Regions from separate parts of the Homo sapiens genome. Here region 1 is linked to region 2. The links come from fine-mapping of genetic effects on gene expression. A gene starts in region 2. The other region holds a variant in brackets. All regions are shown on one strand. Distances are from middle to middle. Region 1 overlaps SLC7A6 (solute carrier family 7 member 6). Region 2 holds the start of SLC7A6 (solute carrier family 7 member 6).

Evidence for each region. PIP is the estimated chance that this variant, and not a neighbour inherited with it, causes the effect. A credible set is the group of variants that fine-mapping cannot tell apart.
Region 1: its variant is the best candidate, but not a certain one, in a credible set for the expression of SLC7A6 in whole blood (INTERVAL, PIP 0.88).

Annotation. Positions count from the first base shown.
Region 1 is chr16:68,293,280-68,298,647 of GRCh38, forward strand. SLC7A6 (solute carrier family 7 member 6) reads left to right here. Exons shown (of 11, transcript NM_003983.6): 8 at 1,426-1,522; 9 at 3,085-3,234; 10 at 3,348-3,531; 11 at 3,955-5,368. The coding sequence ends at 4,049. It overlaps SLC7A6OS (solute carrier family 7 member 6 opposite strand), which reads right to left. Exons shown (of 5, transcript NM_032178.3): 5 at 4,755-5,368. Among named protein-coding and RNA genes, the nearest start is that of SLC7A6OS, 15 kb to the right of the region's middle. RefSeq lists a silencer at 4,707-5,001. The variant G/A (reference allele first, on the strand shown) is at 2,815.
Region 2 is chr16:68,261,713-68,267,080 of GRCh38, forward strand. SLC7A6 (solute carrier family 7 member 6) reads left to right here and starts at 2,814. Exons shown (of 11, transcript NM_003983.6): 1 at 2,814-2,864; 2 at 4,881-5,009. It overlaps LOC124903704 (a long non-coding RNA gene), which reads right to left and starts at 2,745. Exons shown (of 3, transcript XR_007065096.1): 1 at 2,656-2,745; 2 at 1,475-1,702; 3 at 949-984. RefSeq lists a silencer at 2,700-2,979 and an enhancer at 3,352-4,551.

The DNA of each region.
Region 1 (5,368 bases), 32 kb after region 2:
TGGGCATGGTGGCACGTGCTTGTAGTCCCAGCCGCTCGGGAGGGTGAGGCAGGAGAATTGCCTGAACCCAGGAGGCGGAGGTTGCAGTGAGCCGAGATCGCGCCATTGAACTCCAGCCTGGGCTACAGAGCGAGACTCCATCTCAAAAATAAAAAAAGTAGTGTCACCTTCCCTCTGCTCAGCCTAGTTGTGATAGATGGACTTCTTTTCTAGCCTTTCCCTGACACCCTAGCCTCCCCCTGCTCTAGTTTGCTCTCCAGTCTGGTGTCAAATCCCGTCAGGCCCTTACCTCAAAGCCACAGCTGACTGTGTTTGTTCAGACTCCACAGTGTGGCCTTGTATGCAGGTTCTTCCCAGCACCCTCTTCTCACACAGCTTGTCCTGGGGCTCTAGGCATTCTACATCAACCTCCAAAGAGGCCACGCTCTTTCATACCTCCACACATTTTGCCTATGCACATGCTCGTTTTTTCCACCTACCGACTTGCTTCTGGAAACTCTTCTTTGCATCTCTCCTCTTGCAAAGCATTTTGGCACAAGCCTCAAGCCTAGCGAGTGAGTGTCGTGTACTCCAAGGTGATGCTGACCATGCTGGGGACAGTTCATTTCTGTGCCAGTCTTTTTTTGTTTGTTTTTGAGATGGAGTTTTACTCTTGTTGCCCAGGCTGGAGTGCAATGGTGCGATCTCGGCTCACTGCAACCTCCGCCTCCTGGATTCAAGTGATTCTCCTGCCTCAGCCTCCCGAGTAGCTGGGATTACAGGCATGTGCTACCGCGCCCGGCTTATTTTGTATTAGTAGAGACAGGGTTTATCCATGTTGGTCAGGCTGGTCTCAAACTCCCGACCTCAGGTGATCCACCTGCCTCGGCTTCCGAAAGTGCTGGGATTATAGGCATGAGCCACCATGCCTGGACGCTGTGCCAGTCTTTTTCCCAGTCGGTAGAGCTCTTTAGGTGTAGAAAGGAAGCCTGGGTTGTCTCTCTGACCCTCAGTCTTGCCTTACATCAGCTCAGGGAAAATATATGGAGGGCATGAACAGAAATCTGGCTGCCCTTTAAAAGCTATTATGTTAGCTATGAATCTGGCATGGATTGGGTGAGTCTGTTAGTGGGTGACAGCAGGGTGAGGCATCTGTTGGATGTTGGTGAGGTATCTGTGGCTGAGAGAAGAGGGGGTATCTGGGTGATGGTGGGTGGGGCATCTGGGTAGTGGTGAGGTGCCCGGGGATGAAGAGGGAGGGAAAATCTGTAGGGAAGGGGGGAGCAGGGAGGTTGGACTGGTGATGCACTAAGGACCTGGGATGCTCCTGGGAGGCTGCATCCTGCTTTCCTCGGGGGCTCTGAGCTGAGTTTGTCCAAGTGAGGAGTGAGTATGGCTGAGTAAAAGGAGTAAAGGATCCTGCTGACACATTTCTCATCCTTCTAGGTTGTTCTTCGTGGGCTCCCGGGAGGGCCACCTACCGGACCTTCTGTCCATGATCCACATTGAGCGTTTTACACCTATCCCTGCTTTACTGTTCAATGTAAGCTTTGCTGGGACCACGGGGCTCAGGTGGATCTGTGCATTGCTCCTTCTGATTTGTGCTAAGTTGTTAAATAAGAGGGACCCTGAGAAAGGCCTTACTCTAAGATGTGAAAAACAGTTCATTTTTTGTTGTCATTTAATTCTTTTATGGTTTTATTACGTTTAATTTTGGATTAATCTGGAATTTATATTATAGCATAGTATTGAGAAAGGTGGGGATTCACTTAATTTTTTCTCGAATGGCAGCCAGCTATACCAATATCGCTCACTCAACAATCCATTTTCCCACAGTTTTCAAACTTTTATCACAGAAAATTAATAGCTAATTTTTTTAGGGTCCTTAATATGTGCCAATTATTATTGTATGCCCCTTAAATGTGCCATCTCAACTAATCCTCCCCATCAGCACCAAGTCTCCTTAGTTTAGCTTTATACTGACTATCTGAAAACTAAAGAGGGACCAAGGGTACTTCTTTAGTCCCCCCGCCCTTGGAATTTTCCTAGCAATTCTCATATTCGTTTATTTGTCTTGATGAACTTTTCTATCATTTCATCAAAGTAAGAGAAAAATTCTCTTGATATTTTGACAGGGCCAGCATTGAATTTATAAATTTAGGAGGTTATCTGACTATAGGCACACACCACCAGGCCTGGCTAATTTATTTTTTGTAGAGATGAGGTCTCACTATGTTGCCCAGGCTGGTCTTGAGCTCCTGGGCTCCAGTGAGCTGCCACTTCAGTCTCCCAAAGTGCTGGGATTATAGGCACAAGCCACCACGCCCAGCCTTCTCTTCTTAATACAGGGTTCTCCCTTATCTCCACAGAATGAGCTATTTGGTTTTAAATCCTTTGTTGATAATTTGTAATGAAAAGATTATTGAAGTTTAAACACATTTGACCTTGTCCCAGGACCCTAGGCCCTAATCCTTGCCTTCTAGGATTCTTTTGTTCCAGAAGCTAATGCTGTCTTATGTCTGGATGGATCCATTTTGCTAGTTTCCAGGTCCAACACCTGACTTCAGAGGCCTGAAATGCTACAATTTCTCCCTCTGGCTCAAAATTCTTCCATGGGGAGAGAGTTAGATTCCATTATTTATTGACATTATTTAGTCCAGATGGGTAGGGATCCAATTGCTAGTTAGCATTTCTCAGGCCTGAGGACAGTGAGATGGTTCTGAAGGCGTTTCCCCCATTTGTATGCCAGGCAGTCGGGACCCAGGTCTAACCCCTCTCTAGGACACCGTGTAATCCATGTTAAGGTTGCTGCACTGAAGTGAGGAGGGCCTCAGC[G/A]TCTGCCTTTTTCTAAAGTGCTTGCAACAAGGGGGAGGCATTGAGTGGAGGAAGGGCTGCAACAGAAGGGGGAAAGATGCTACCCTGAGGGTTAATGTACCTCAGGGTACATCAAGGAATGGACCTATCTGATGCCAAGGGGTCAATGAAAAGAGCCAGAGGTAATCTGGTGAAGTGGCATCAGATCTAGTACTGACTGCTGGGTGGGGGAGTCTCCTGGGGGCGCAGGTGGTGACGATGCTCACCTGTCTCCCCACCCCTTTCCCACAGTGCACCATGGCACTCATCTACCTCATCGTGGAGGATGTTTTCCAGCTTATCAACTACTTCAGCTTCAGCTACTGGTTCTTCGTGGGCCTGTCTGTTGTTGGACAGCTCTACCTCCGCTGGAAGGAGCCCAAGCGGCCCCGGCCTCTCAAGGTCAGCAGCTCTGGCCAGACTAGGAGGGGTGGGCCATCTCCCTAAGGTGGCTTCTTGCCCACGAGCTGTTTCCTCTTCCCACGTTACTTAATCTCTCACCCCCTCTATTTCAGCTGAGCGTGTTTTTCCCCATCGTGTTCTGCATATGCTCCGTGTTTCTGGTGATAGTGCCCCTCTTCACTGACACCATTAATTCCCTCATTGGCATCGGGATTGCCCTTTCTGGAGTCCCTTTCTACTTCATGGGTGTTTACCTGCCAGAGTCCCGGAGGCCATTGTTTATTCGGAATGTCCTGGGTGAGCTTCTCTGTGCCCCATTACTCACTGGCGGCTATGTGTGCATGCGCATGCAGAGGTGGGGGGTGGCTAACAGCTTCCCCATACTCAGAATTTGCTGGAGGCCATGTGACCCAGCTGTCCACGACTTCCCTTTTGATTTTGACATGATCACTTTAGTTCTAATTTTAGTGTCCTATTTTGGGGCTAAAACATTACCTCCTGACAACACAAATCACCTGGGAAGATGAGTTGTGCATCAGACTCTGGTTGGGCATGGGACAGAGGATGATGAGGCTTGTTGGGAGACAGGGGCAAAGCCTGATATAGGGTACTTAAGGGGCAGGTGGCGAGGGAGCCATAGATGTTACTAGTCAGCCTTGTTCAGGTTAGGGCTGTAGCTAGATGTTTACTAAACCCTGTGCTTGCTCTATTTTCATTTAGCTGCTATCACCAGAGGCACCCAGCAGCTTTGCTTTTGTGTCCTGACTGAGCTTGATGTAGCCGAAGAAAAAAAGGATGAGAGGAAAACTGACTAGAGGTCAGAGGTGGCTTTCTGAGGCCTGGAAGGCAGGCCAACCAGCAAAATCCTGATAACAAGACTCTGTGGGCCCAACTCTCCTGAATTAAAGGAGCCTTTTGACCCAATCATATAGTGGGGCTCAGGGCCAGTGCTCACTCTTATTGGTAAGCTATAGGAGACTCAGGATCTGGGCCAACCTCAAGGTGGGGGCTTCAGAGGGTGGGGGGAAGATTGGGGAACGGGGGGAATGGTCATTTAGTTTTACTCCTGATAGGTAGATGCAGCTCTTACAGATATTTACTTGGTAAAGTGCAGTGGGGAAGAGGGAATGCTAGGTTGATAGGGCTGGTGGCTTCTGAATTTGGTATTTGAACTAGGAGTCCCTATAGAGGGGCTGCTTTATGGGAAGTTTTTCTCTGACCAGGTACAACACCTGACTTTAAAGGCCTGAAATGCTACCATTTCTTCCTCTGGCTCAAAATTCTTCCCTGGGGAGAGAGTTATATTCCCTTATTTATTGATATTTAGTCCAGAACACCAGTTCTAACGAAGCATGCGTGTCTCTTCATCTACAGGATGCAATAGGCTGATTGTATTTAAAAATCAAAGTACCCAAAACTGAGTCCCTTTGGGCTCAGAAATGTCTGTGGTATTGGGTCAGACTCTGACCACAGGTTTTATGCTGTTTAGCACAATTTCTATTGAGTCTTACCTGCAACAATGAACCTTAAAGATTTTTTTACTCACGTACCTGTTACACTTTAGCATACAGATAGATCATAGATCACGTTACAAGCACTTGGCTCAGGTCCAGCAAGGACAGATGAACAAATTCCTGAGTCAGAAGTCTGTTAATATTGCTGTTTTGAAGGACAATCCTTTATTTTACTTGAGACCTTACATCTTTGTTCTAGCTGACAGTAAATCTCTGGGTTTCTGTTACGAACTCTAAGAGGGCTGAAACTTCTGATATTCAGGTGGATCACCTGAATTCTCTCAGCTGTCAATGGCTTGGAGAACATCTCATGGGCCCAAGTCATCAAATAACCTGTTCCTCTCTGTAAGGGCAGTGTGAGGGACTGCTGTGCAGACCCAAGCAATCCCAACCTGGTGCTAGGTCATTTCACTTTTCTGAAAACCTCACATCAGGCTGCATCCTCTTCTGTCCCTGGCACCAGGCTTTGTTTACACTTGGAGCCACCTTGGTGTGGGTCACCGGGACAGTGTACTCCTCTCCTGCCAGCCTCCCCTTCCCCGAGGTGTGGTGGCTGCAGTCTCAGGAAGAGCTTGGTACTTGTGGGGACTTCTGTTTTCTCCCTGTGGAGATCAGTGAAG
Region 2 (5,368 bases):
CTTTGATACACCAGGGGCCACAAGAGGGCGCCCTGAACCCTCTCACTGAACCACCTGTTAGCCAAACCTGGAAGGACGAGGTGACCCAGAGTGGGGGTAAAAATGCCTGTGGTAAAAATACTGGGGTCCAGCTGCAGCTCTGGCCTCAGTAAAAGGATGACAACATGAAAGGGAGCTTCACCCCAGGCCCTGCCCAACCTGACTCCCTGCTTGGCCCTGACACCCCCCTACTCATGGCACCCCACTCATCCCTGACCCATTTTAGCTTCACCATCACCCTCAGTTTCATAGCTGCAGAGAGAAAGGGCATGGAATCAGAGGAGGCTTAAGGATCAGCATACTAGGGTTCAAATCTCAGCTCTACTAGCTCCAGCCAAGTTGTCTGGGGAGCCTCCTGACCCTCAGTTTCCTCATCCAAAGAATGGGGACATCTGGGTGCATTGGCTCACGCTTATAGTTCCACCTACTCAGGAGGCTAAGGTGGGAGGATCGCTTGAGCCCAGGAGTTTGAGACCAGCCTGGGCAAGACTTTATCTCTAAAGGTGAAATAGGCCGGGCGCCATGGTTCACGCCTGTGAGCCCAGCACTTTGGGAGGCCAAGGAGGGTGGATCACATGAGGTCAGGAGTTCAAGACCAGCCTGGCCAACATGGTGAAACCCCATATCTACTAAAAATACAAAATTAGTCAGGTGTGGTGGCACATGCCTTGTGGTCCTAGCTACTCTGGAGGCCGAGACAGGAGAATCACTGGAACCTGGGAGGCGGAGGCTGCAGTGAGCCAAGATGGCACCACTGCACTCCAGCCTGAGCAAGACAGAGCGAGATACATCTCAAAAAAAAAAAAAAAGATGAAATAAATCTGTAGTCCCAAGTAGGAAGCTGAGGCAGGAAGATCGCTTGAAACCAGGAGTTCGAGGCTGCAGTGAGCTATGATCACACCTGTGAATAGCCATTGCACTCCAGCCTGGGCAACAGCAAGATCTCTAAAAGCAAAAGAAAAGAATGGTTACAAATAAATGTATCCTGCAGGGTGGTCCTGAGGAACACTGATGGTGTTGGAGAACATCTGATTCAGGGTGTGGTGTACATTGGGCTTTCAGCTGATGGGCTACGTAACTGGGTATGAGACTGCAAAGCCAGACGGAGCTGGCATATGGTGTTTTTTTTTTTTTTTTTTTGAGATAGACTTTCGCTCTTATTGCCCAGGCTGGAGTGCAATGGCGCGATCTCGGCTTACTGCAACCTCTGCCTCCTGGGTTAAAGCGATTCTCCTGCCTCAGCCTCCTGAGTAGCTGCGATTACAGGCATGTGCCACCACACTCGGCTAATTTTGTATTTTTAGTAGAGACGGGGTTTCTCCATGTTGGTCAGGCTGGTCTCGAACTCCTGACCTCAAGGTGATCTGCCTGCCTCAGCCTCCCAAAGTTGTAGGATTACAGGCGTGAGCCACCAGGCCCGGCTGAGCCGGCATACCTTATATGAAGCTGTGGCAGGGACACGTGGGCTGGGTGCTGACACAAGTGTCCAGAGCTGTCCTTCTGCTCAGCCAGGGAGGCCGGAGGAACTGATCTGGGAGGCAAAGGGTGCAACTCGATTGATCCAAATATATACGTCCACTCACTGACACTTAGGGGAGGGGTTCCAAGCAGAGGGCAGGAGGGCAGCACCAGCGAGGATTCCTCAAGTATTGTCATCCCAGGCCTGCAGAGAGGAGAATGGAAGGGTTTTAGGCAGGGGAGATACAAAGTCATCGCAATCTGTATTCTAGGAGCATCCCCTACTCTGTGGAGATGGGGTAAGGGGAGCAGGATAGGGATTGAGAAGCCGTTGTGGCTGGGGAGAAGAAAACGAGGTATAGGCCGTGGGAGGAGTGGGGAGGAAGGGTCTGAGGTGCTACCCATCTCTGGCTGGGTCCCTGTCACTGGGTGGCAGGGAGCAGGGTCTTGGGTATGGTCTGGAACCAGAGGACGTGTACTTGTGGTCATAAGGCTGGGGGAAAAGATTCCAGGGCCCTGGAGAAAGTCAGTGCTTGAGGTGTGGACAGGAAATTTCGGAGGAGGGCTCAGGCGCCCATGAGGTCAGGAGGCTCTAGACAGAGAGCCCCAGAGCCACCAGAGGAAAAGGAACTCGAGAGAAAGATGGAGGAGCAAACAGAGGGAGGGGAAGGGGGCAGGAGGTGCAGCTCCCCCAAGAGGGGGGGCAGGAGGTGCAGCTCCCCCAAGAGGGGTGGCAGCCCTCTTGGGAAGATGAGGACAGAGCCCCAGGGAGGCCTGGGGTTGGCAAAGGGAGCCTGCAGTTTCTTTGTGGGTGCGGGGGCCTCAAGGGCTACGAGTCTGAGCTGTGCGTGTGTTTGGACAAGTCCCCAGAGTGTGTGTCTTCCTGGGGTTCCTAGACTGCGAGTGGCAGTGGCCCGGCGGCGGAGGCCGTTTGGATCCCTGTGTGAGCTGTAGGGGGCGCCCTGGGCGTCGGGCCCAGGTCAAGTGCGAGATAGGAACGGGGTGCGGGGGCCGATGAGAGCTCCCCGCGGGAATGTCCGCTGTGGACGCCCTCGGAGGCCCCATCTAACTCCAGGGCGGCGAGCGTGGCCGGGCCCAGTTCACGGGCTGCTCGAGCCCTGACGAGGCAGCTGGGGGCTGTCTGGCGTCCACGCTCACGTTCTGGGCCGGCGGACCCCGTACCGGCCAGGCCGTGGCGGCCACGGGGGCCCGGAAGCGCCGCCGCCAGCTGGCCCCGCACGGAACTGTGTCCCGACGCGGCGCGCGCTGTCGCGATCCGGCGGCGGGTGACGTGGCGGGGCGGGGCCTGAGCTGCCGCGGCGGCGGCGGCGCGACCGAGCATCCTGGCGGCGCCGGGCCACTGGGAGGTAACGGGCTGGGCCATGGGCGGGCGCGCCGGGAGCGGGGCCGGGGCTGGGCCGCGTTCTGTGGGAGCCGAACCCTGTGGGTCTTCGCTGCCGCCGTCGGGAGCGGGATGCGGCCCAGAAACAGCGCGGGGCTGGCCGATCGGGGCCGCGCGAGAGGCGCTGCGGGTGAGGGGGGGCGCCACGAGGAGAGAGGGACCTCGAGCGTGAGGGCCGAGTGTGGGAGAAACGCTGTATGGGTGCGAGCCCCGGAGGCTGATGGTGACCGCGAGGGAGCCAGTCTTGGGGTGTGCTGGCGACGCGGCGAGTGTGAGGGAGACCGGGGGTGTGTGTGGAGAGGGAAACCCCAGGTGCGAGGGTGACCGGGACGCTGAGTGCGCGGGCCGCGCCGCGAGCGTGAGACTGTGCGACGGTGACCCTGAGTGGGGCTGTGACTGCGCCTCCGACTGCAGGACGGAGAACCTGTGCTGTGTGGCGGCCGCGGTGGGGCAAAGAAAGACGCGGGCTCAGGACCTCAGGAGCCAGGCTTCCTGGGGCTGTCGCAAGAATGACGATTATCATTTTAAAATCAGTCCTTTTACTTTAGAGAATGCCGCAAGGTTTTGTGGCGTGCTGGAGCCTGGAGCGTTGGGCTGCTGGCGCTGGGGAACCCGCGTGCCCCTGGTGATTATGGCTCTTTTGAGCGTCCCTATAGCCTGTCATCTTGTGTGACTATCTCTCCTGAATGTGGGGAGATAGACGTGAAACATTCTGAAAATTCTTTGCTGGGCTCTAAGCAAACATGTTGTGTAATGGTCAGTATAAATAGGAATCAGGGTGTCGGCGAACACGTTTTTGAGTACCTCTTGTATGCCCTGGGCTTGGTGACACAGTTAAAAAGAATTCAGTCTCTGCCCTTGATAGGGGAAAAAGCCAGGGCAGCTCATCTCGCAGGGCGGCTGTTCAGTGCCCAGCCATCCGGGGCTTGTCTCTCAGAACTGCTCCCAGATTTCAGATCTGGGAGGAGCAGACTTGAAAGGCTGTGAGTACTTCCTTATATCAGTTCCACCTCTTTTTGGTGGCGGTGAGGCCTTTTGGGGACCTGCCCAGGCTGCCTGCATTACTCAGGTCCCATGTGTGCTGCGCAGACGGCTTTTGCTTCCCAACTTTGATCTCAGATCGTTATTCAAGTCGTTACACTGGAGTTTATTTTCCTGGCAAGTGTGTGGAAAACCACCAGCCTGATTTTCTCCTCTCTTCCTCTCCTTGTCCTCCTTCCCTATTTGGCCGTGGATGTATTTTTATTGCATATACCGGTTTTATGATCCCCATCTCCCTGGAACTTCTTAGTAGAAGAAATTTCCTGACCTTTGTGCTTCCTGCTGTAATTTCTTGGATGTATATTAGTTTCTAAAAAAGTTATGCAGGCCGGGCGCGGTGGCTCAGTCCTGTAATCCCAGCACTTTGGGAGGCCGAGGCAGGCGGATCACGGGGTCAGGAGATCGAGACCATCCTGGCTAACATGGTGAAATCCCGTCTCTACTAAAAATACAAAAATTGAGCCAGGTGTGGTGGTGGGCACCTGTAGTCCCACCTACTCGGGAGGCTGAGGCAGGAGAATGGCTTGAACCCGGGAGGCGGAGGTTGCAGTGAGCCAAGATTGCGCCATTGCACTCTAGCCTGGGCAACAGAGCGAGACTCCATCTCCAAAAAAAAAGAAAAAAAGTTATGTAAACGGTGCCCACGGGACCTGGGGCCCCAGAGCTGCCTAGACTTACATGATTTAATGTGACAAGGCCAGTTCTCTGACAGGTTTGGGCTGGCTACTTCAGTTATACCCACCCTGTGGGTGTCATGGAACCTGCTAGTAATTAGGACTGCCCCTGCCGGGCATGTAAAATTTAGATTTTACAAGGAAATATCATTCTGCTGCTTTCTTGGTTAATTAAAAATAATTACATATATATATATATTTAAATCAGCTTTCTCAGGTTAAAAGAGTTCATTTTTTGATCAGTTCCCTCCCACTCTTTGTTGCAGAGTTTATGTGGCCGAGGCAGACAAGTGGAATTAGGCCTTGCTGCAGGGGACTTCATTTCCTTCTCAGTACTGGACCCATTTATGAGGAGGTGGCTTATGAAAGTGTGATGTTCGCGTATTTCTTGACAGGTGAATATTGTTGCGCTGTCTTTTCTTTTGTTTGTGTGATTTACAAAGAGTTTTTACTTGTATACAGTGTGAATACAATACTAGTAAACAGAATGGCTTACACATAATTAACAACTCTTTAGTATTACATATTAAATAACACTGTAATTTATTATAAAAATAAATTATACATTTATTTATATTACAATTCTTTATAAAGAGTAATTGTGGTGGGTTTTTTCTTTTTTTTTGGAGACAGTGTCTCACTCTGTCACCCAGGCTGGGGTGTGGTGGCGCAATCTCTGCTCACTGCAACCTCTGCCTCCTGGATTCAAGCGATTCTCCTGCCTCAGCCTCCCAAGTAGCTGGGATTACAGGCG